Linked DNA regions of Homo sapiens. The protein of the gene in region 1 purifies or fractionates together with the protein of each later gene. This does not show direct contact. Each region holds a gene or a part of one and is shown in the gene's direction. Other genes may lie near its edges.

The links. The genes of interacting proteins can lie anywhere in the genome.
Region 2: the proteins of CORO1C (region 1) and ACTR2 fractionate together in Homo sapiens (co-fractionation; 3 studies listed by BioGRID and IntAct, with this or other methods). This does not show direct contact.
Region 3: the proteins of CORO1C (region 1) and ETF1 fractionate together in Homo sapiens (co-fractionation; 2 studies listed by BioGRID). This does not show direct contact.

What each region holds. Positions count from the first base shown.
Region 1 is NC_000012.12:108,643,945-108,651,957, reverse strand, and holds the end of CORO1C (coronin-1C), read left to right. Parts: intron 1-2,937; coding exon 2,938-2,995; intron 2,996-3,107; coding exon 3,108-3,353; intron 3,354-4,435; coding exon 4,436-4,555; 3' UTR 4,556-6,849; downstream 6,850-8,013. UniProt on the Homo sapiens protein: Plays a role in directed cell migration by regulating the activation and subcellular location of RAC1. Increases the presence of activated RAC1 at the leading edge of migrating cells.
Region 2 is NC_000002.12:65,230,698-65,238,560, forward strand, and holds part of ACTR2 (actin-related protein 2), read left to right. Parts: intron 1-7,863. UniProt on the Homo sapiens protein: ATP-binding component of the Arp2/3 complex, a multiprotein complex that mediates actin polymerization upon stimulation by nucleation-promoting factor (NPF).
Region 3 is NC_000005.10:138,504,865-138,512,369, reverse strand, and holds the end of ETF1 (eukaryotic peptide chain release factor subunit 1), read left to right. Parts: intron 1-765; coding exon 766-895; intron 896-1,169; coding exon 1,170-1,325; intron 1,326-1,740; coding exon 1,741-1,805; intron 1,806-3,553; coding exon 3,554-3,701; intron 3,702-3,982; coding exon 3,983-4,065; 3' UTR 4,066-6,275; downstream 6,276-7,505. UniProt on the Homo sapiens protein: Component of the eRF1-eRF3-GTP ternary complex, a ternary complex that mediates translation termination in response to the termination codons. The eRF1-eRF3-GTP complex binds to a stop codon in the ribosomal A-site.

The sequences.
Region 1 (8,013 bases):
CGCCTCCCTGGTTCAAGCAATTCTCCTGCCTTAGCCTTCCAAGTAGCTGGGATTACAGGCGCCCACCACCACACCCGGCACATCTCACTTTTTATCATCACCTGAATGCCTGGTGATACCAGAGCAATACAGCTACAAGAAATTCTATGAAGCCCAAGTCTTTCTATCCTTGTGTGTACTGTGGAATTAATACCTCATTTCCTGCCCATATAACTGAAGTGCAACAATGAAGCAGCATAGCTGGGGTGTATTGCACACCTACTGAAATAGTGAAACATGCATCTTTAATCTTCAAGCTGAGGCCATGGTCAGCGTTCCCTGGTGGGCAAGTAGGGAGAGCCTGGCTCGGGGATGGAAAAGTGGGTGGTTTTCCTACCCTATGAGTGGAAGAACCAGAGTCAAAACTGTATTTGGGGCCCCACTGGTCCTAAAATAGAGAAACCAAAGGTCCTATAATGGGGCGGTAGGTTAGCTTGATTTAGGAAGTTCAGCTATGATATAATTTCTACCTCTCTGTACTACTTCTGATTTTTAGAAAATTCATATTCTAAATGCTAGCAGGCTTCCTAAGGGACAGGCTTTTTTCTCATGCTAGTCAACAAATATATCCTCTGAGACTCAGTGACCACTGGCCATTTCAAACAACAGAATAATTAGCACTACATCATCACATATAAGGTCGTACCAAACATTTGTGTAACACTGTGTTTATGTGGACTTTTAAAACGCTTGCTGTTCTGGTCTCACAATTAAAGAATTGATACTTACGTCTTCCAAATAAAAGGAAGAGAATTTTTATAAGCCCCTTTTTTATATTAATCTCTACTAAAAATAAAAAATTTGCTATGTGTGGTCGTGGGTGCCTGTAATCCCAGCTAATTGGGAGGCAGAGTCAGGAGAATCACTTGAACCCAGGAGGCGGAGTGAGCCGAGATGGTGCCACTGCACTCCAGCCTGGGCAACACAGCGAGACTCCGTCTCAAACAAACAAAAACAAACAAACCAAAACTCTCTATGTGATTTTTTTTTTTTAGTTGGAATAATGAAGGAAAGCTGTTAAAGATAATTGAAAATTGTGGTTTAAACCAAACTAATCAAAATATGGTTCAAAATAGACTGAATTCAAATTTATGATTACATCCAATATTTTGAAACACATTTGTTGTCATCTAAAAGTTCGACAGACTATAAACACAGTTGTTCAGAATGTCTCCGATTTATGAAGTGTTTCTTGAGCATTTATTGTATGCCAGGACTGTGCTAAATATGCTACTTGCTACCTCTTTCTTTTCATAACAATCATATGTGGTAGGTGTAACTTTTATCCCCATTTTATGGATGAAGAACTTAAGGCTTGGTGAGGTTGTCACACTCTCGTGGGTTTTGGTAGTAGAGCTGGAAGTCAAAGCCAAGTCAGTCTTTTTATTGGCTATACTAACCACAGAATTTTCATTAAATCAGTCTTTAAAAATGTTTTTGGGCCAGGAGTGGTGGTTCACCCTGTAATCCCAACACTTTGGGAGGCCAAGGTGGGAGGATCACTTGAGCCTGGGAGTTCAAGAGCAGTATGGACAATCTAGTGAGACCCTGTCTCTACAAAACATTAAAAAAATTAGCCAGGTGTGGTAGTACGTACCTGTGGTCCCAGTTATTCCAGAGGCTGAGGATTTGGCTTGAGCCCAGGAGGTCAAGACCTCAATGAGCTTGTGCCACTGCACTCCAGCCTGGGCGATGGAGCAAGACCCAGTCCCAAAAAAAAAAAAAAAAAAAAAAAAAAGGTTTTTGGTTTATCTGGGACTCTTTTAGTTTTTGGTTGAAATAGTAAAGAGGCACATTTGACACAACCTTCCTTTTAAAGAGGATGATGATTTTATAAACCTTTACCACCCTGAGCTCTACTCAGCTTTTGTTCCCCTGATGCGTTAGAGCAGTGTATCTGCCAGGTTGTCTTCAATGGACTCCTGCCCAGTTTCAGATGCCAAAGGCTGCAGGTTTCCAGGAGAAATGGTTTTGCATATTTGATGTGGCTGTGTCTTCTCTGACTTAAACTCTTGGAATTCAGAAAACATTTCCCCAGCAGCATTGACGCCCACATTCAACTCCCCCCTTGCACACCAGCCGTTTGATCTGGTGATCTGGCCAGGATGCTCACTAAGGCTACCTCTCTTGCCAGGAGCTTTAGAGACTTTTTTTGTTGTTTCCCGTCTTGACTGAAAAAGAAAATTGGCTTGACCTTATCAGGGTCATCATAAGAGAAGTCATTTCTGGTCTGTTTAGTTCTCTTGTAGGATACAAATAAAAATGTTATACCTTTCTTCCCCATTACAGAGCTCTTTGCTCCCTTCTTCCAGTATTACAGTGCAAGTGGCTTTACATTCTCTTTCCACATTTTGGATAGTTTCACATTTTTCTTGAGTGTCATGTACGATGTGGTTTGCTAGGATGAGAAAATCATAATCCTAGGATTGTTTTCTTTTGCTTTCTAAAAGTCATATTTATACTTATATGTTCAACCACCTCAAGCTGGCAGAAGACCTTGTACCCGCGTTGTAGATACAATCTAACAGATGTGTGTTCTCTCCTGTAGGTTGACATGGTAATTTTTTCATAAGTGAGTCAGTTTCAGTGTTGCTATTATTTCCACCACAGTTGGTCTGTCCCCCAGATAATTGGCATTTGTCATCATCATACGTAGACCTCTACTCATGGTTCTTGTCTCCAGTCTGCCAGTTCCTAGCATAGTGACTCTCAGCTTCCGTTCTCTCATCTGTCAACCGGGAACACTAAATTCTGCCTATTCCCGGGGTGGATCAGATGTGGGGATGGGTAAAGAAGCACTTGACATTTCAGACAGCATTGTAGAAAACTAATTATTCATCCTGTTAGTCAGCCTCATATTTCACTTAATGCAACTTTGCCTTTATTTCCCCTCTGAAGATTCTTCAAACTTCATGAGAGAAAGTGTGAACCTATTATTATGACTGTTCCCAGGAAGGTGAGTGCTGAGTTTTCTAGACAATCCATATTTTAAACAAATGTAAAAATAAAATTCAAAAATCCCAGGCCTTTCTTCTTCCTTACCCACGGGTGCCAAATGTCTCTTGTAGTCTGACCTTTTCCAAGATGACCTGTATCCTGACACAGCGGGGCCAGAGGCCGCGCTGGAGGCAGAAGAGTGGTTCGAAGGCAAGAATGCAGACCCAATCCTCATCTCCTTGAAGCACGGGTACATTCCAGGCAAAAACAGGGATCTCAAGGTGGTCAAGAAGAACATTCTGGATAGCAAGCCCACTGCAAACAAGAAGTGCGACCTGATCAGCATCCCCAAGAAAACCACAGACACGGCCAGTGTGGTGAGGACCAGTGGAGTGCAGGGGTGCTTGGCTGGTTCAGGCTTTATCCTCTAGAAAGCCCTTGTGGTCCAGGGCGTCGGCGAGTACTGTCCCAGCTGGGTGCTCAGGGGTTTTCAGTAAATGAAAAAGTGGGAGAAGGTCCTCGGTCACGTGATGGTGGTGGTTTGTGGCAACACTTGCCTCCTTTAACGGAGTTAAAGCTCCTTTAGCCCCATTAAAGGAGCCAAGTGTGGCCACAGACCACCATGATTGGGATAGGTATCAGTTTCCTCCTATCTCTCAGTGTGAACAGGAGCCTCTTGGGTTTTTCCTGTCTTTTGCCAAACTAGTTAAACCCTTCTCTGATTTGGGTAGAAATAAAATATCATGGGAGTGTGGGGTCATAGGCACCAGGGAGAGGAGGTCCCTGGAAGGAGGGAGTGGCACGTGTTCAGATGTAGCTGAGTGGCTACGACAGAAGGATCTGGCGGTGTGGGGCTGGCAACAAGGGGGATTTAGGCAAGAGCCCTTTGGGTGGGGAATTGGGAATCAAGCCTGCCTTTGACTCGCTGCGGCCACTGGAGAGTGCTGCTGTTGCCGGGAGAGCAGGTCCTGGGTAAGAGAGAAGGAGTGGACACACAGGGCAAGGGTTTCCCTCCCAAGAAGGAGCCTCACAGATGGCAGGAGCTCTGTAGCCTCTGGGAGAGTCACCCCTCTCTCTGGTCAGATAGAAGTTACTCTTGATGGAATGATTGGGGTGGTTAGGACGTAGGACACTGTTGAAGGAGCCTGTTTTGTCCTATAGTCTAACTGTGACCCAGGAGACCCTTTGTTTGAGTAAATGCACAGGCTTCGGGATCAGAAGTGGCACTGTGACACTGTGACACACTGTTGTTTTGCCACGGGATCTCAGATAGATCGGCCAGTGCTCATTGCATTCAAAGCCCCAGACATAGTAGGGCTTTGACTTCTCTTTTCAACTTGGTGACTATGGCTTGCCGTTTGCAAAATAGAAAACTACATTTTATATCTTACAAGTTTTGAACAGTGTTGAACTTTGTTTACTGCATTTTAATCACTGCCTCCTTTTTTTGTTTTCTTAGCAAAATGAAGCCAAGTTGGATGAGATTTTAAAAGAGATCAAATCTATAAAAGACACAATCTGCAATCAAGATGAGCGTATTTCCAAGTTAGAACAGCAGATGGCAAAGATAGCAGCCTGAAGGTCCCACCCCCACCCCTACAGAAAAAATGGGAGCAAGAACTTGTGCTTGGGAGCTGGTTATTGGTGTGGTCCTAGGGAGGGCGGAAAGGGAGGCACTGCCATTTGGAGACATTCCATTTCAGATTTGTCAACCAGCGATAGGCCACATTCCAGTAAGAACTCAATTTGTCTCCCAAATTTGCAGAAACAAAACGTGATTTAAAAGCTGAGCTTTTTATCAGAAAGCTTTTTTGATGTTTTAAGTGTTATGTGACTTGTTGAACTTTTTAAAAAGTGCTACTTTTAAAATCCCAGATACTCTGAATTTTAGAAAACAAACTAATTCTGATTGTGTCGTGCCCAAGTACCCTTTTTTTTTTAATGAATAGGGACCAATGCCACATTGCTTTTTATATTTCTTTCTTTTTTAATGTTGCCAAAACCAAAAGTAGCTTTGTTTTCCTTTGTATTTTGCTACTTTGCAGTATTTGTGTGTGTGGTTTTTTTTCCTTAATTTGAAAGGGACAGCACTGTGTATGTTTATAAACTAAATGAAGATAAGATATTATTTTGTATAAACATTCATCTGAGAACAATCAAAGCAGTAGCCACATGGTGCTGGCTCCTTTGCAGCACAAACCTGGTCATTTTGATGACTGTACAACAGGAAGACTTGAAAAATCACGTGGATTCATATTACCACCGCTCTCATTTCATGGAGTCTTCTGATCAAAAAAGCTCACGTCGTATTTCTTCTTTTCCTTTCTCTTTTCTAGAAATTGGGTGTTTGTACCAGAATGGAATTTTGCTTCTCGGTTATCCTGTGCTTCAGATGATTATAATCTAACCCAAACTAGCATGTGTTTCTGCAGTTTGTTACACACCTAGGATCATATTGCATTCATCACTTTAAACATCATGTTTCAGGTTTTGGTCAATACTTGACAAGGGTGCCCAGGACAGGAAGACGTGTACTGCTGAGTGTTCCTTCTTGCCCTTTTCAGCAGCTTGCCCAGCTCTTGAGTACAGTGGTGGGGACTAAAAATGTGGGCATGTGGAGAGGGGTATTTGCCCTGGGTGATCCTGTTTCCCTGTGCTGTCCCCATGCTGTGTTGGAGGAGGAAGTGGCTCTCCTTCCACCAACAAAGCTCCTGCTCTACCCTCTTCCTCACATGTGCTGCGACCTCTCTCAGGGCTCCCCCAGCCATTCCTTCTTTCCTTCCTGCCTTTTAGCTCTAACCACATTAAGCTAAGACAAGGCCAGAGGGTGCGATTGAATGAGTATTGAGACTGAGGAGAATGATAGAGAGTGAAGCAGAAACAGGAGCACAGACCTCTGCTGTAGCTTTAATGCATACAAACATGTCCCTCCGCACAACTAACCTGCCCTGCCTCTCCATCTCTCACCAAGGCTGCGTCAAAGCACAGAGGCTCCCCGGACTCGGAGGGGGCCAGAGACTGAGCTCTGGTCACCTGTTCATTCCTCGGTTAGCTGGAACTTTGCCCCGTTTCCAGTTTCTTATAGTGCATGCTTGGGAAACAAGATTTAAGGAGCCTCTGTTTTGGAAGGGCTGTCTGTGATTGAACGTGAAATGTGTAGTGCCATTGGGACCACGAAGGGAATTCTTGCACATGCTCGTGCTGGTGTGGGCATGGGACTGGCTGGAAACGTCTGTATGCAGGGAGCCAGGGTGAGGGCAGAGTGTGGTGACAGCCGAACTTGGAGTAATGTCCGTGTAGAAAAAGGACCATGTTCTTATCCAGCCAATACTGGGAGTGCTGTCTCCACAATTTCAGGGCATCTGAATGTTTGATGTGGTTTTGTGTGTGTGTATGTATGTGTTTAATATTGAAGTGGATCATGAGATGTAAAGAAAACAATAATGGCAATGACTTATATTCAAATCTGTATTTGTTTCTTTATCAATGTAATCTGCTGAGGACCTTTTGTCTAAGATTCAGTAGTGTTTTAAGGTTCTGATATCGAATTAATGAAGTAAAGTTGTTGATGGTGGTGAAACACCGTAGGGCATGTGGTTCAAAGAGAAGCAGGAGGGCAAGGGAAAGTTACCCTGATCTTAGTTTGTAGCTTATGACTTATTTAATGAATGGATGCCCAGCCAAGCTCAGAGTAGGCGCCCAAAGCATTGTGGATTATTTTCCTGTTTTGTCTTTTTTTTTTTTTTTTTTTAAGCCATGACATCCCAGAAGAGGACAGTGAATTACTCCTAGGTCGGCTCTTATAGAGTGGCCATAGTGTTCTGTCAAAACACTTGCTTCCATTTTCAGAGATAAAAATCATTGATTACAAAATGGTGTTTGTGTTTATTTCACGCCTTGGCTGTCTGTGAGGCAGCCCCCACCTCTCTGCCTGACATAGCTTCTCTGACTTTGGTGGACGAGCACGGTGCCATACTCCTCTCCGGGGGTAAGTACAGGGGAAGCGCGTGTGGGTGGCTCAGTTCAAGTACAAGTGAGGTCTCCAAGCCAGTCAAGCACTGTGTTTTGGCTTCCAGCAGACCTGAGCCTTTGGATCCTGCCTCAGACCTTTGCCAGCGGTGTGTCCTGGGATGGGGTTCCTAATCCTTCTGAGTCCCTTTTCTTGAAAGGAGGATGATAATTCCATGTAGTTCAGATGAGAGGAATACCTGTGTGGCCACACAAACAACCCTCGCTGCATGGCCGCTACTGTTACTATTATGAGTTGATTTTCTGACAGAGTCTTTGAAAGCACTTTTTCTTCAATAGAAGCAAAATTCTCTTGGCTCAGCTGTGACTTTTATTCCAGCAGGCTTCCAGGGTCAGTTGAATTGCAGGGCTTCCCTTTCGCACTATGACATTGTCTCGTGACATTTCAGTGATTGTAGCAAAGAATTTCCCACTGTTTGCTTTTTCTGAATATGATGAATGGTCAGCATAAAGCTCCCCTTCCTCAAATGCCTTATCTTAAAGTTGCTTTAGTCTATGAGAAGAATGGCTGCCATGTTCTTGGTCCACTCGTGGCTGCAGGAAGTAGAAGTTGGCAGGGCTCTCTGTAGACCCGAGGTGCCCGCAGTCAGCCAGGAGACGCGTGGTGGTCTGTTTATGACTAACTTGTTTTCTCACTCGGGCCACCTTGATTCTTTGCCAGAAGACCTGAAGGTCAGCATGCTGGCCCCAGACAGCCAGCCAGACCTCGTCTGGGGGGAACTTCCATTTTTTTTTTCAAGGTCACTTCCCTTGCTGTACTTGGTATTCTACACCCAGAAAAACTCTTTGTTGGCTCTTAAGAATCTGTTAACTCTAAGTGGGCCCTTCTCTTTCTGCGGGCACATTAAGTATCCCAGTGCTGGCAGTGGGTCACGGACATGAGTCACCGTCAAGGGCACGCCTTTCCTGCTTCAGACGGGCAACCCTTGATGTCCAGGCCGGACAGTGCCCTTTGTGCTCTTTTATTCGTTAAAAAGAAGTCCCTTGCCAAAGAATGTAGGGGTGGCA
Region 2 (7,863 bases), on another chromosome or scaffold:
ACTGCACCCTGCTGTCAGAAGCTAATGTTATGTTACTATTCCATTAGTTAGCTAACATTAGAAGGCTGATTTTAGGCTGGGCGTTGTGGCTCATGCCTGTAATCCCAGCACTTTGGGAGGCCGAGGTAGGAGGTTCACTTGAGGTCAGGAGTTTGAGACCAGCATGGCCATCATGGTGAAACCCCGTGTCTACTAAAAATACAAAAATTAGCCGGGTGTGGTTTCTGATGCCTGAAATCCCAGCTACTTGGGAGGCTGAGGCAGGAGAATTACTTGTACCTGGGAGGCAGAGGTTGCAGTGAGCCAAGATCACGCCACTGCACTCCAGCCTGGGCGACAGAGTGAGACTGTCACAAAAAAAAAAAAAAGCTGATTGTAGTATGTTATTGATTAGTCTTGTGTCTAATCCATGTTTTTAAGATTCTTTTCCTTAAGACAAGTGATCAATTCCTGTCATAAATGAAAAAAGTGAGTGTAATTAATTCAAATAAAATTTATCTGTTCTTATGCTTCTAGTTATTTTAAAATTTTATGCAGATTTTCTATGGACATGATTGGTTTCAAATGAAGAAACAGTGCTGTTAAAATACATGAATCATATAACAGGAATGCTGTAATAGTTCTGAGTATGTAGAGGACTAGGAACCGCTTAGATTGTGTATTCTGTTTCTTACCATTTGTAGACATGAATAATCATCTTGATTTTATTTAGATACCTGAAGTTATAATGATTCCTTTATAATTAAATATTAAAGAAGATATTCAGATGTAATTTTGCAAATTTATGGAAATAGTTGTTATCCTAAGGTGTTTTCATTTGCTCCTTACATGCCTTAGGTTTTAAAATTGTAGGCTGGCTGGGTGTGGTTCCTCATGCCTGTATTTCCAGCATTTTGGGAGGCCGAGGTGAGAGGATTTCTTGAGGCCAAGAGTTTGAGACTAGCCTGGGTTAGTATAACAAGACCCCATATCTAGTAAAAATAAAAATAAAATTACAGGCTTTTTAAAAAGTTACGATTCTTTTAACCTCTCTGGCAGACCCAAATTAAATATTCTAGGACAGGAGTGTCCAGTCTTTTGGCTTCCCTGGGCCACATTGGAAGAGGAATTGTCTTGGGCCACACATGAAATACACTAACAATAGCTGATGAACTAAAAAAATCACCAAAAAAATTTCATAATGTTTTAAGAAAGTTTGTGAATTTGTGTTGGGCCTCATGCAGCCCGTGGGCCATGGGTTGGACAAGTTTGCCTGGAAACAAGTTTGTACTTACGATCACATGACCAATGTTGGTCCCGCTTGATTTTCTATCTCCCAGCTTGACCAGTGTCTCAGTAGGGTTGCCCAGAGGAGGAAAACTCATTTGATCCAATAATTTATGTGGATTTTAACCATTCAAACCTCCTTCTGAAATCAAGCCACTTAAAGTGGCCCAGATAGGTGAAAATCTGGAGGTCTGTGAAACTCTAGGTTTAGGTCCTCTTCACGAGCTAGGCCCAGGCCCCTGGTGTTACGTGTCTTGTTACCAGACTAGGGTGATTTCATCAGCATTGAGTTAGATCACCAACAAAATGAAGGTTTCTCCAGTGCGTGCTATGTTGCTGGCACAGTGCTTAATAAGGTCCAGTCGTACAGAGAAGCTTATAGTGCTAGAATAATTGCATTTGCATTTATGTAATTGACATTTGTAGTTGATTGTGGCCTGCTTTATCGGGCTTATGCTACTTTATATGTTGAATTTAGGAGTGTTTGAAACAGAAACAAACCAAAACCAAATTTGGTTTCATCTTGCAAAATGCTTTGGTATAAGTAGAATAAATATTTTGGTGGCCTAAGATCAGAACAGTCACTGTGCAGTTAACTTACTAAAGAACATCAGTACCATGAGATAAAATTAGTAAGGGGAAAATAAATATTAAATAAGCCCAAATGGGGCTTTATAAATCCCAGGTTATTATTTTTTTGAAGAGAAAAAAAAAATGTACTTTTAGAGCAGATGTAGATAGAATTTTTCATTTTTGCTTGAAAGAACATTATACTGTTCATATTCTTACCATTTGATGACTCAGTGGGAAGTAAGGGAACTAGTTTAAACCACACTGCTGTGAAGAGGAAACTATATATGGTAAAATCTATTTCTTAAACACAGCCTTACTGCACACAATGAAAGAACGAAGTCACCAAGTCTTAAAATGATTGACATGGGGGAGGAATTTCAAGGATTAAGATGATACCAATGATACCAAATGATAGTTTAGAAAGGAATGTTTTCTTTGTATTTTATCACATCATGGTTTAGTTTTTTTTTTTTTTTTAGACAGAGTCTTGCTCCGTTGCCCAGGCCAGAGTGCAGTGGCATGATTTTGGCTTACTGCAGCCTCCATCTCCCGGGTTCAAGCAATTCTCCTGCCTCAGCCTCCCCAGTAGCTGGGATCACAGGTGTGCACCACCACGCCAGGCTAATTTTTGTATTTTTAGTAGAGATGTGGTTTCTCCATGTTCGTCAGGCTGGTCTCCAACTCCTGACGTCAGGTGATCTGCCTGCCTCAGCCTCCCAAAGTGCTGGGATTATAGGCGTGAGCACTGCGCCCAGTCTAGATTTTTTTTAATACTGATTATTATTATTATTTGCAGAAGTAATCAGATTGTCAGTTTTATATTATTGAAAAATTGGGGCCAGGCACAGTGGTTGATGCCTATAATCCCAGCACTTTGGGAGGTAAAGGTGGGAGGATTGCTTGAGGCTGGGAGTTCAAGACCATCCTGAGCAACAGCGAGACCCCTGTCTCCACAAAAAATAATATAATTTAAAAATTATAATTTTTATTTTTTCTTTACTGCTTCTTGCAGAGCAGGACTACCCCATAGGCAGTGTGCCCAGAGTAGCCAGTATAATTTTTTTTTTAATTATTTTATTTTATTATTGTTTTTGAGACAGAGTCTCACTCTGTCTCCCAGGCTGGAGTGTATTCATGTTATCTCGGCTCACTGCAACCTCCGCCTCCCAGGTTCAAGTGATTCTTCTGCCCCAGCCTCTCAAGTAGCTGGGATTACAGGCATGCACCACCACGCCCAGCCAATTTTGTACTTTTAGTAGAGATGGGGTTTCACCATATTGGCCAGGCTGGTTTCGAACTCCTGACCTCAAATGATCCTCCTGCCTTGGCCTCCTAAAGTGCTGGGATTACAGGTGTGAGCCCCCACACTCAGCCTTTTTTTTTCCTGACAGGGTCTCACTCTGTTGCCTAGGTGGGAGTGCAGTGGTACAATCATGGCTCAAGGCTCAACGTAGCCTCAACCTCCCTGGGCTCAGGTGATCCTCCCACCTCAGCCTCCCGAGTTTCTGGGGCTACAGGTGTGTGTCACCACGCCTGGCTAATTTTTGTATTTTTTGTAGAAATGGGGTTTTGCTCTGTAGCTTCAGGCTGGTCTCGAACTCCTGGGCCCAAGCAATCCACCCACTTTGGCTTCCTACAGTGCCAAGATTACAGGTGTGAGCCACCATTCCCAGCCAATTATTTTAGTTCTTGTTATTATAACTGTTAATGTTTTCACTTTTGAAGTAATGTGAAATAGTGCAATTTTTGCTATCTTGATGGATGAATATATACCCTGTATGAAAACTGGTGCTGAGTTCTATGGCAACATCTGCTTCCAATAAACTACTGCTCAAGCAGAATAGTTTTATTAATAAGTGATTGATAATCTTTAATTTGAATGAAAAGTCTTTTTTTTTGTTAGGCAGTAATAGTAGGTTTACAGTTGTTTTTATAGTTTCAGGGATTTCAGTTTTTGTCTTCTAACTTGGGAAATGTTTGTTGCTTAAAATATACTCATAAGAATGTTAAGATACGAACTACCCATCTGAACGATTATAATTGGAAGACTTTGAGTGATGTGATTATTTGCCACTTTGCCATGTTGTATGTCCAGTGTGTGTAGCTCTGAAGGAGAGGGGAGACGTGTCAACCTTAGCAGCCTCTTCCCTGCACTAGGATCAGACCTATGCTCCATCCCAGGCTCCTCCTGCCACCTCCAGCTTCTCTTACGATTTCTCACTTAGTAAACTTATTTATTTGCATTCAGCATGCCAAAAATGAACCTTACAAACTGGTAGGTTCTCTTTTCATTCATTCATTCATTCTATAATTTTTTTGAGATAATTTATACGCATATAAGTGAGCATTTTCATCCGGATAAATGGATACTTTTGACTATATCTGTTTATTACTTGGAGGTAGGCATAATAATTTAATATCAAAATAGTATTTAATTCCCATATTTGAGATATTTGTGTAAATTATGACTGACATTAGGCTGGCGATCATGACAGATGTTATACAGAAATGTGGGAACAATAGGGATAATGATGAGAACAGATTCTCTTCCATATCATTTAAGTTTGTATCAAGTAAACTGGATTTTGACTTAAAAGAGAGTTTGTGATTTGGGAGAGAAGAGTGTGTGAGAGGTGTGTGTGTGTGTGTGTGTGCACGTGGTGTGTGTGTTATGTTTTAGTTTGAAAATACTAAAAAATACTAGATGTTATTCTTTTCCTCTGAGGTAGTTTTTCCTCCATGTCTTAGGTCACATTATTTAAGAAGACACTGAGAAAAAATGAACTACTACTCCTGAATTCTGTTCATTTTAAGGGTGGGAAGTGTATTCCAGTTCATCACTATCAACCACTGCCAAGGGGAAATAGCTGTGAGCAAGTGGGTTATCTATTGCATATGCTATCATATCATGCTAACTTCTGCCTTAAAAAGTAATCCAGGCTGGGTGCCGTGGCTCACGCCTGTAATCCCAGCACTTTGAGAGGCTGAGGCGAGTGGATCACGAGGTCAGGAGATTGAGACCATCTTGACCAACTTGGTGAAACCCCTTCTCTACTAAAAATACAAAAATTAGCCAGGTGCAGTGGCGAGCGCCTGTAATCCCATCTACTCAGGAGGCTGAGGCAGGAGAATTGCTTGAACCCAGGAGGCAGAGGTTGCAATGAGCCGAGATCACGCCACTGCACTCCAGCCTGGATGACCGAGTGAGACTCAGTCTCAATAAAATAAAATAAAATAATCCAAAAGAATTGTATTATACTTTTAGAAATGGATAGCTGTACCTGAAAAATGCCCTTACCTTGGTGGCTCAATATAAACTAAGACTAGGTTTGTGGGCTTGTAAGAAGACATCTGAATAATATGTTTTATGTAGTTTCTATTAATAAAATGTAAACATGAGGTGAAAGGATAGGAATTGAGGTGGCATTGGGAGTGTGAACTTTCCTCATTTCAGACGAATTTTTCATAAAAGCTTTAATCTGATTGTCATGACTGTAACATATTTGAAAAAACTCTGTTTTTAAAAGACTAAGTGGGGCCGGGTGCGGTGGCTTATGCCTGTAAGCCCCAGGCTGGTGGATTACATGAGGTCAGGAGTTAGAGACCAGCCTGGCCAACATGGTGAAACCCCGTCTCTACTAAAAATACAAAAATTAGCTGGGCGTGGTGGCAGGCGCCTGTAGTCCCAGCTACTTGGGAGGCTGAGGCAGAATTGCTGGAACCTAGGAGGCAGAGGTTGCAGTGAGCTGCGATGACGTCACTGCACTCCAGCCTGGGTGACAGAGCGAGACTCCATCTCAAAAAAAAAAAAAAAGACAAGTGAAATTCTGGATGGCAGAATGTCCTAGGCTATTTATAATTAAATGTGGTTCATCAGCGTCATCTCCAACAGGGCTGCTGTAGAGATCTTTGAAAATACCAAATTTTTATGTTTTGGAGAGCTACATAAGATCTTGCTAAGTTTTACCGCATTAAACAAAAGAGTTTCTTGTAGATAGTAGCTTTCTTTTGTTGTTGGTTTTTTGTTTTTTTGGGTTTTGTTTTGTTTTGTTTTGTTTTTTTTGAGACAGGTCTCATTCTGTTGCCCAGGCTGGAGTGCAGTGGCGTGATCTCAGCTCACTGCAACCTCCGCCTCCCAGGTTCAAGTGATTCTCATACCTCAGCCTCCCAAGTAACTGGGATTACAGGCATGCACCACCATACCTGGCTAATTTTTGTTGGTTTTAGTAGAGATGGGTTTCCATCATGTTGGTCAGGCTGATCTCAAACTTCTGGCCTCATGTGATTCAAGTGGTGTGCATAGTAGCCTTCTATCAAGAGGTACATTGCTCTTTTCTGTCTACCTTTGTTTTATTACTGTCATGTATCACATTCAGGTACTATTTTTCATCCTTAATTCTAAGAATGTGTGGTGCCTGGAGCCATAGAAAAACAGACTTTTTCTGAATATTAAATATATTTTAAAACAATCATGGTATCATACTGTTAAGTCAACAGCAAAACTTTTAATATTTATTGATCATTTACTGTGTACCTATTATGTGCCAGACGCTGTTCTAGGCAGTTGGAATTCATCAGTAAACACAGTGTAGCTAACATTAAATAAATGCTTGTTAAAGAGGGTGCAGACTATGATTACATTTCCTTTCTTATATAGCTTCCTCCTCCCACCCTGAAATTTTTAATTGCCCTTTCCTTGCAATGTCTGCTCTTACTAGACTATGTATTATTTATTTTTTGTATGTTTTTTGAGACAGGGTCTCACATGATCACGGCAGCCTTAACCTCCCAGGCTCAAGTGATCCTCCCACCTCAGTCTCTGGAATAGCTGGGACTATAGCACATGCCACAATGCCTGGCCAATTTTTAAATTTTTTGTAATTTTTTCCGGGGGGGAATCTTGCCGTGTTGCCCATACTGGTCTCGAGCTTCTGGGCTCAAGTGATCTACCTGCCTAAGCCTCCCAAAGTGCTGGAATTACAGGTGTGAGCCACTGGGCCCAGCGTAAACAGACTATACAAGAATTTGTAACTGCCGGGCACAGTGGCTCATGTCTGTAATCCCAGCAACTCAGGAGGCTGAGACAGGAGGATCATTGGAGGCCAGGAGTTCCAGACCAGCCCGTGCAACATAGTGAGACCCCATCTCTACAAAAAATTTTAAAACTTACGCTAGGCGTGGTGGCTCACTCCTGTAATCCCAGCACTTTGGGAGGCCGAGGCAGGTGGACCACTTGAGGTCAGGAGTTTGAGGACAACATGGTGAAACCCCGTCTCTACTAAAAATAAAAAGAATTACCTGGGCGTGGTGAGGTACACCTGTAGTCCCAGCTACTCAGAAGGCTGAGGCACGAGAATCACTTGAACCCGTGGGCGGGGGCGGTGGAGGCCAAGCTTGCAATGATCTGAGATGGAGCCACTGCACTCCAGCCTGGGCGACAGAGTGAGACTCTGTCTCAAAAAATAATAATGAAAATAAAAACTTATTCGGGCCTGGTGGCACATACCTGTAGTCCCAGCTACTTGGGAGGCTGAGGTGGGAGCATCACTTGAGCCCAGCAGTTAGAGGCCACAGTGAGCTGCAGTTGTGCCACTGCACTCCAGCCTAGGCAACATACAAGACCCCAACTCTAAATTTTAAATATTTTTTAAATTAAAAAAGTATTAAAAGCTCTTGATTCTCTCAAGTTTTACTGTAGTTAAATCCTGTAGAATATCAGCTTCTTATGTATAAAATGGAAGTCTTATCACAATGATATGTTCTCGGAGCAGTACACAGAGAATGAAATTATGTTACCCGGTATTACTAAATATATTTATCTAAATGTAAAAATGTAAATAGGGCCAGGCGCGGTGGCTCACGCCTGTAATCCCAGCACTTTGGGAGGCTGAGGCGGGCAGATCACGAGGTCAGGAGATCGAGACCATCCTGGCTAACACAGTGAAACCCCGTCTCTACTAAAAATACAAAAAATTAGCTGGGTATGGTGGTGGGCGCCTGTAGTCTCAGCTACTCGGGATGCTG
Region 3 (7,505 bases), on another chromosome or scaffold:
AAAGCACATTTTATAACATGGGCTCAGCCATAATACACTTTCAAGATCTGGAGGAAGTAGCCTTATGGTAGAAGGTCCACCAAAGAAATTGCCTTTAAAAAAAAAAAAAAATATATATATATATATATATATATATATATATATTTTTTTTTTTTTTTTTTTTTTTTTTTTTGAGACTGGGTCTGGCTATCTTGCCTAGGCTGGAGTGCAGTGGCAATCATGGCTCACTGCAGCCTCGATCTCCCAGGCTTAAGTGATCCTCCCAGCTCAGCCTCCCAAGTAGCTGGGACTACAGGGATGTGTCACCATGCCCAACTAATTTTTGTACTTTTTGGTAGAGACAGGGTTTCACCATGTTGCCTAGGCTGGTCTCAGAATTCCTGGACTCAAGCTGTCTGCCTCTCCTAGCTTCCCAAAGTGCTGGGATTATAGGTGTGAGCCACCCTCCCCAGCCCGTCTTAACCTCTACTACCTTATTTGGCAGGAGCCAGTGGTCCCCCCTTTCCTCCACAATAACTTATTTTTGTTTGCACTTAATGAGTTGTCCTATAGTAGGTCTAATAAAATGTGTGATATAATTGGCAGTGCTGTTCACTTTAAGAGCAGCTTTTGATTAAATTGGGCTCCTTCCCCATATTTAGACTTCAGTGATCATAATGCTGAGCTTTGCATACCATTAAGAGTTAGTGGGTTTGAGTAAAGGTGTTTTAATAATATTTTAAATAAGTACCAGTAAGTACTAATAATATTTTTTTTGTGTGTTAGAGGTTACAATCAAAAGTTTTAAAATTAGTTGATATATCCTATGGTGGTGAAAATGGATTCAACCAAGCTATTGAGTTATCTACTGAAGTCCTCTCCAACGTGAAATTCATTCAAGAGAAGAAATTAATAGGTATCGGTGAAATGCAACTACTTATTCTGTGAAATGTTTTCGTGTGTGTGTGTGTGTGTGTGTGTGTGTGTATGTGTGTGTGTGTATGTACGTGATTGTATGTATGAGACAAGGTACCAAAAATGTAAAAAGGAATATTTAGTATTTTTATTAACTCTTTTGCCTCAGTAAAAGCATTATTTTTTATCTTCTTTAGTCATTAGGTCGAATAGGTGTGTTTGTATCTACTAGGGAAACTTTAATATATATCCTGTTGACTGATCCCTAATCGTAGGACGATACTTTGATGAAATCAGCCAGGACACGGGCAAGTACTGTTTTGGCGTTGAAGATACACTAAAGGCTTTGGAAATGGGAGCTGTAGAAATTCTAATAGTCTATGAAAATCTGGATATAATGAGATATGTTCTTCATTGCCAAGGCACAGAAGGTATGAGAATTAGAAAATAAGGTTGCTATTTGTTACTGAGCCAGGAAGCCTGGGGTGGAGATTTGGGAGGGATGGCTGATTTCAGGAGCAATCAGAAGGTAGATCTACCCATTGTTCCCCAGTCCTTCAGTCTGTAGCACATTCCTGCATAGATTTTTCTGCTTGAACTGTTTAACGTCTGCTTAAGATTGTTACATCTGCTGAGGACCAGGACTATATCTTGAACATCTCTGATGTTCCTTATGGTTGAAGCATTGTACCTAGTAGACACTCAGTGTATGCTAACATGTTTATGGAAAAAATGTTGAGAGATTGAGTCCCTGAGCCCTTTTCTCATCTAACCTCATCTTATGGAGCTTACACAGATTAGTATATGAGAGCCAGGTTAACACATTTTTTCCTCCTAATACTACAGAGGAGAAAATTCTCTATCTAACTCCAGAGCAAGAAAAGGATAAATCTCATTTCACAGACAAAGAGGTATGTGATTATTTTCTTGGTTTGATGATACGTGCAAGCGTAAATCCGTGTGTTAGAGTACTGGCTGTGTAGAGGGTGAGCTTTGGGAAACCAAACCTTATACTAATTGGGGGTGCTGTGGGAGGTGGTCATCTATCTGCCACATACGAATCTGATTTCAGGGAAGGAGCTGCAGCTTTTTTTTTTTTTTTTTTTTTTTTTTTTTTTGAGACAAGGTCTTGCTCTGTTGCCCAAGCTGGAGTGCAGTGGCATGATCTCGGCTCGCTGCAACCTCCACCTCCTGGGCTCAAGTGATCCTCTTGCCTCAGCCTCTCTGGTAGCTGGGACTACAGGCATACACCACCACGCCCAACTAATTTTTGAATTTTTTGTAGAGAGGCGTTTTCACCATGTTGCCCTGGGCTGGTCTCAAACTCCTGAGCTCAAGCAATCCACTTACCTCGGCCTCCCAAGTGGTGGGATTACAGGTGTGAGCCACCATGACCGGTCTTTTTTTTTTTTTCTTTGAGATAGGGTCCTGGTCTGTCACCCAGGCTGGATTCAGTGGCACAATCATAGCTCACTATAACCTCGAACCCCTGGGCTCAGGCAATCCTTCTGCCTCAGTCTACTGAGTAGCCAGGAGTACAGGCACAAGCCCTCATTCCCTTTTTTTTTTTTTTTTTTTTTTGAGGTGGAGTTTGCTCTTGTCACCCAGGCTGGAGTGCAGTGGTGTGATCTCGGCTCACTGCAACCTCCACCTCCCGAGTTCAAGCAATTCTCCTGCCTCAGCCTCCCGAGTAGATGGGACTACAGGCGCCCGCCACCACGCCTGACTAATTTTTGTATTTTTAGTAGAGACTGGGTTTCATCATGTTGGCCAGGCTGGTCTCGAACTCCTGACCTCAGGTGATCCACCTGCCTTAGCCTCCCAAAATGCTGGGATTACAGGCGTGAGCCACCATGCCAGGCAGCCTAATTTTTTTTATAGAAATGGGGTCTTGCTGTGTTCACCAGGCTGGTCTTGAACTCCTGGGCCCAAGTGATCCTCCTACATTGGTTTTCCAGAGTGGTGAGATTACAGACGTGACCCACCATGCCTGGCCTGGTTTTTGTTTGTTTGTTTGTTTTTGTCTTTGTTTTTAAGTAGTTAAGCAATCAGGAAAACATTTCATTATCCTTGAAATTTAATAGGGAGGAAAATGTAATTTACATAATGCCTCTCCTGCACTGTGAAACCTGTGCTGCTTTCTTCACTTGATCAGCTCTTCCACTGCAGTGGCTTCTCTGGTTTGCTCTAAGTGCATCACAACAGTTGAAAGTATGACCCTCCCGTATGAGATAGGTTTAAATGATAGCTTCCTCAAATTCTGGTTTGGAGAGCTTTGTTCTCTACGAGGCCACTCCCAAAAGCAGTCCTGGAATGTCTCTTCTGAGCCATTGAATGGGTGCTGCTTAGAGACACTACAACAGCCTGACTTCTAGAGTCAACAGTAGGAATCATAAGCTGAATACCCACTGAGTTTTTGTGTTGGTATTTCATAGCTGAGGGTAGAGCCTGAGGAGAAGTGTTGTTTGAAATAATCCGAATTTCTCTGCTGATATCCATTAGGTTATCAAAACCAGAGATGACTTACAGAGCTTTACACACAGACATGCCTATAAATGGGAGGATGAGAGTGATAGGTGGGCAAGGGGCTGTGAGAGGGACTAATTAGCCTTCATATATCCTAATCCCCCATTTTTGTATCTCATGGTCATCCCTGTAGACCGGACAGGAACATGAGCTTATCGAGAGCATGCCCCTGTTGGAATGGTTTGCTAACAACTATAAAAAATTTGGAGCTACGTTGGAAATTGTCACAGATAAATCACAAGAAGGGTCTCAGTTTGTGAAAGGATTTGGTGGAATTGGAGGTGAGTAGCAAATCAGCAAACCAAACTTAAAACCAGGGTCTCAGGTCAAGGTCCCTCCTGGCTAGCCCTAGCCCTGCTTCCGGTGAGGTGCTTATTATCTGCTGGGATAGGTGATTGACGCAGCAGGTGCAGGTTCCTAATTTGGACCCATGTTTATTATTACCTCTTTGCTTTCTGCAATTCTGCAAGAGAATAGGGCTTCCCTTATTCCCTTACCAGCCACCTACACACATGCCCATCCCATGAACACAGGTAATTTACCTTTTGGTTTGTTTCCCCAGGTATCTTGCGGTACCGAGTAGATTTCCAGGGAATGGAATACCAAGGAGGAGACGATGAATTTTTTGACCTTGATGACTACTAGGTAGTCGACATGGGTCCGGCAAAACGTGCCTCACCCTCCAGCATCCAACCCAAGGAGCATACCCATGGTGGAATCCAAACAGATCCCTGCCTTACAATTGGAACATTTCCAGAACTTAATCCATGAGCATTGGATATTGAAAAGAAAACCGAAACAAAACCAGACCCAGCCCTACACTTTGGTTTGTCATGGTGTCAGCGCAGCAGCCTACAACTAAGTTCCTAAACGCCACTTTGGACTAATTTAAAAAAGAATCCCAGTTTTTACTTTTACTGGATGGTGAAATTGGTTGCTCTTGTATTTTATGAAAAAAAATGATTTTTTTAACCTTCATACATAGAAGCAAAAATACTTTAACTGCTGTAAACCTTCAAAAGTTAATAGAAGTGAGATCATACTGGTTTGTTTCTTATTTTGATTGGAGAAAAATTAAATTGCTGCATTTCGCAGTGACCCATTTACATGGCATTCTCAGCTTAGACTGCGTAAGAAGAAATATATGTGGTGAAATGTTGGAACCATTTCTCTCTTGGTCTCTGTTTAATGTTGAAAGGGTGAGCTAATAGGAGGCACTTTCAACTTCACTCCCTCACGCTACCCCGTCCCCCTCCAGACTGGCAGTTTCAAGGATGCAAATTGCATTGCAAAATCAAACTGACTCATGAAGCATTTGGGCCAGTGCACTGTTTACTTCCATCTGTTTGCAGACACATTTGTGCCCGGCGTTTGGGAGCCCTTTGTATCAATGTTCTGACAAGGGTCCCTATAACCTTAACCTACTCGAAACCGGTTTGGGATGGATATGATGGGGCTTCTGTGCTATTGCTGGGATTGGGAGAAATAAAACATGCAATTTAAGTGGAAGCGAAGAAATTTAAAGAGGATTTTATTTTGCTTGGGTCAATCCTTGTTAAAAGGGAGGTGGATGTGTTTTCCTTGTGTTGGATGGCATGAGATTATGTGAATGTTTTGATTTATTAAAATGAACTGCAAGGTTTTTCACAGGAACGACAGACATGTATGACTGCATGTAATTATAAACTCCTGACCTCCTGGTGGGGTTGGAGCATCTGTTTCAAATGTGGGACTTACAAGCACTTCTCACATGAGAAATTAGGGGCGGGTGGGAAGGGATGGGACACAGCTTCTGGCACCATGGATTTAAGACCATGTTGGATCCAAAAGTTGGCCTGAAACCCTGAAGCTTATGCTTCACAGCTGGGCTGTAAGTCAGACTTGAACCCAGCTGATATGCAAGGTCATGGCGTGCCCAGGGTGGTGACAGTTGAACAAAGTGTATAGTACGTGCCCAGTGGTAGCGATGGAAAAAAGTATACCAAATGGACTTTGAAGGACCAAAGGTTTTAAAAGTCAATTGGTATCACCTCCACACTGACTAGGGTAGTGGGGTGCATTTGGTTTTCAAATTGGGTACTTTTAACACTTTAGTGCCTGACTGCTGTTCTTTACTGACTTGATTCAGTCACTCGTAGCTTTATTGGTCTGAACCAGCTCCTTGTTCCCAGGTTACAGACCTGCCTATCGTTCCAATAATCCTGTTTCACTTGAATGAAGGGAGTATGTCTTAAATGTAAAGTTTCTGGTTCTCACACTGTACTCTGAGGTCCAAATACTGTCTGTCAATGTGTAACCTGATGTCTCAACCCCCTGTGAGAAGAGTCCATTATTTGGTGTTCACCAACGTGGGAGACTTCACCGGAACAGGCTTTTTTGCTTTGGGCTCTGCTATTTGTTTGCAGAACACCCAAGAGCGAGCAAACATGCTCTCTTCACAGCAGTACCTTAGGGTTTTGCCATTGTAAATGGGTCTGATGTGATATGACAAGACCAGAGAAATTGGATGTAAATTTACATTTTTGAATATGCTTGTTGTTTCACATGATACATTTAGGGTATGCAGCTCCTTTTGTAGTTTTTATTTTTACTATTTAAGTTTGGAAATGATGCCAAATTTTTGTATTTCTTTAATCAATGTGTTCTCTTCGGTGATATATATTGCATTATATATTGATGTGTGTATCAATATATATTGATATGTATTACACTTACACATACAAACACATATAAGAGGGGGTGAAAACCGTAGCCTTTGCATTCTCTATAGCCTCTGCAGAGAGATACTAAGCAGCAAAATCTTGGTGTTGTGATGTACAGAAATGGAGAAGAGTATTAAACCATATTTAAGAATATACTTTGTGTGCTTGAGATTTTTTAGGACTGGTCTAGAAAGGCCTGAACTGTGGAGACAGTTCTCCAAGGCATACCTCAGATTAGTCACGGCCAATAGCATTTCAGCCTTGGGTTTGAGTTGTGTTTACTACATTTGTCTATGGAAAGGTATATGCAAAGTTTTTCTGAGGTCATGATCCCAGAGTTATGCTAGAAGAAGAAGGTTCAGGTTGCTGGGGCCAAACTAATTTGTATTCTCCCCCATTCTATATGCATGCCAAAGGGAATCTTGCTTTTTTTTTTTTTTAAGGTATGTTAAGTATATTATCCCATAACCCAGCATCCCATGGAGGTAGATGGTGTACCCAATTTTACAGGTGATGAAACAGAACAAAAGAAGGTTAAGTAGCAGCTCTTTAGTGATAACACCAAAATTTTATCCCAGGCCTTATTCCAAAGTTCTCTCTGTATCTGTCTTTGAGTCCTATAATAGAATGGTCCAGATGGAATAGCAGAAACTAGGCCTGGGCCCTCTCTCTCTCCCACGCTCCTTCATCTTACATACCTTACACTGGGTAGGAGAGTAGTAGCCCACCCAAAAGCAGGTCAGGGGCTGGTCCAGAGGAGCAGGGCTCCTAGGCCAGGTTCAGAGCAGAAGAGGATTTGTTTTCTTTGTTTTCCCCCAAGGTTGAGGTGCTTAAAGAGCCTCTTTGGTAGTTTAGGAAGCCTAGTTGAGGAGCCAAGGTGGTGCATGGTTTGCTTTCTCCAGGTTTGAGAAAACTGTTTTAAGTAAAATTGACCAGTAATGGCACTTGGCGTACTTTTCACCCATTTTCTTACCTGATCTAGGTGATAGCTCTGACGACGAAACTCAATTACCAGCTGGGAAGGGGCGAACATGCCTGTGCTGGTGGAAGTGTAATTTTCCCTCCTAATGCGTGTCTAGGTGCTGTTCTTGAAGACAAAATTGTTGGAAGGCAGCACAGTGGTGCAGGATATATGGGCTGTGGTCCTTGCCTGTCTGGGCCTGCAGCACTTGCCATCTTTTGTTCTCTGGCTCCAAGACGCATGCCATGACACTCCCAGACAGGCACGGTGGATTTAGGGCTGAGAGCCAAGGTGGAATTTAAGTTTCATGCCAGCTTCTCCTTTGTTGCCAGCTTGAGTGAATGCCAGGGGATTCCTGCCTGCCAAGTCCAGCCCTGATGGGACTGGGTCTCAGGGGACCTAGGAACTGAACAGCCAAGTGG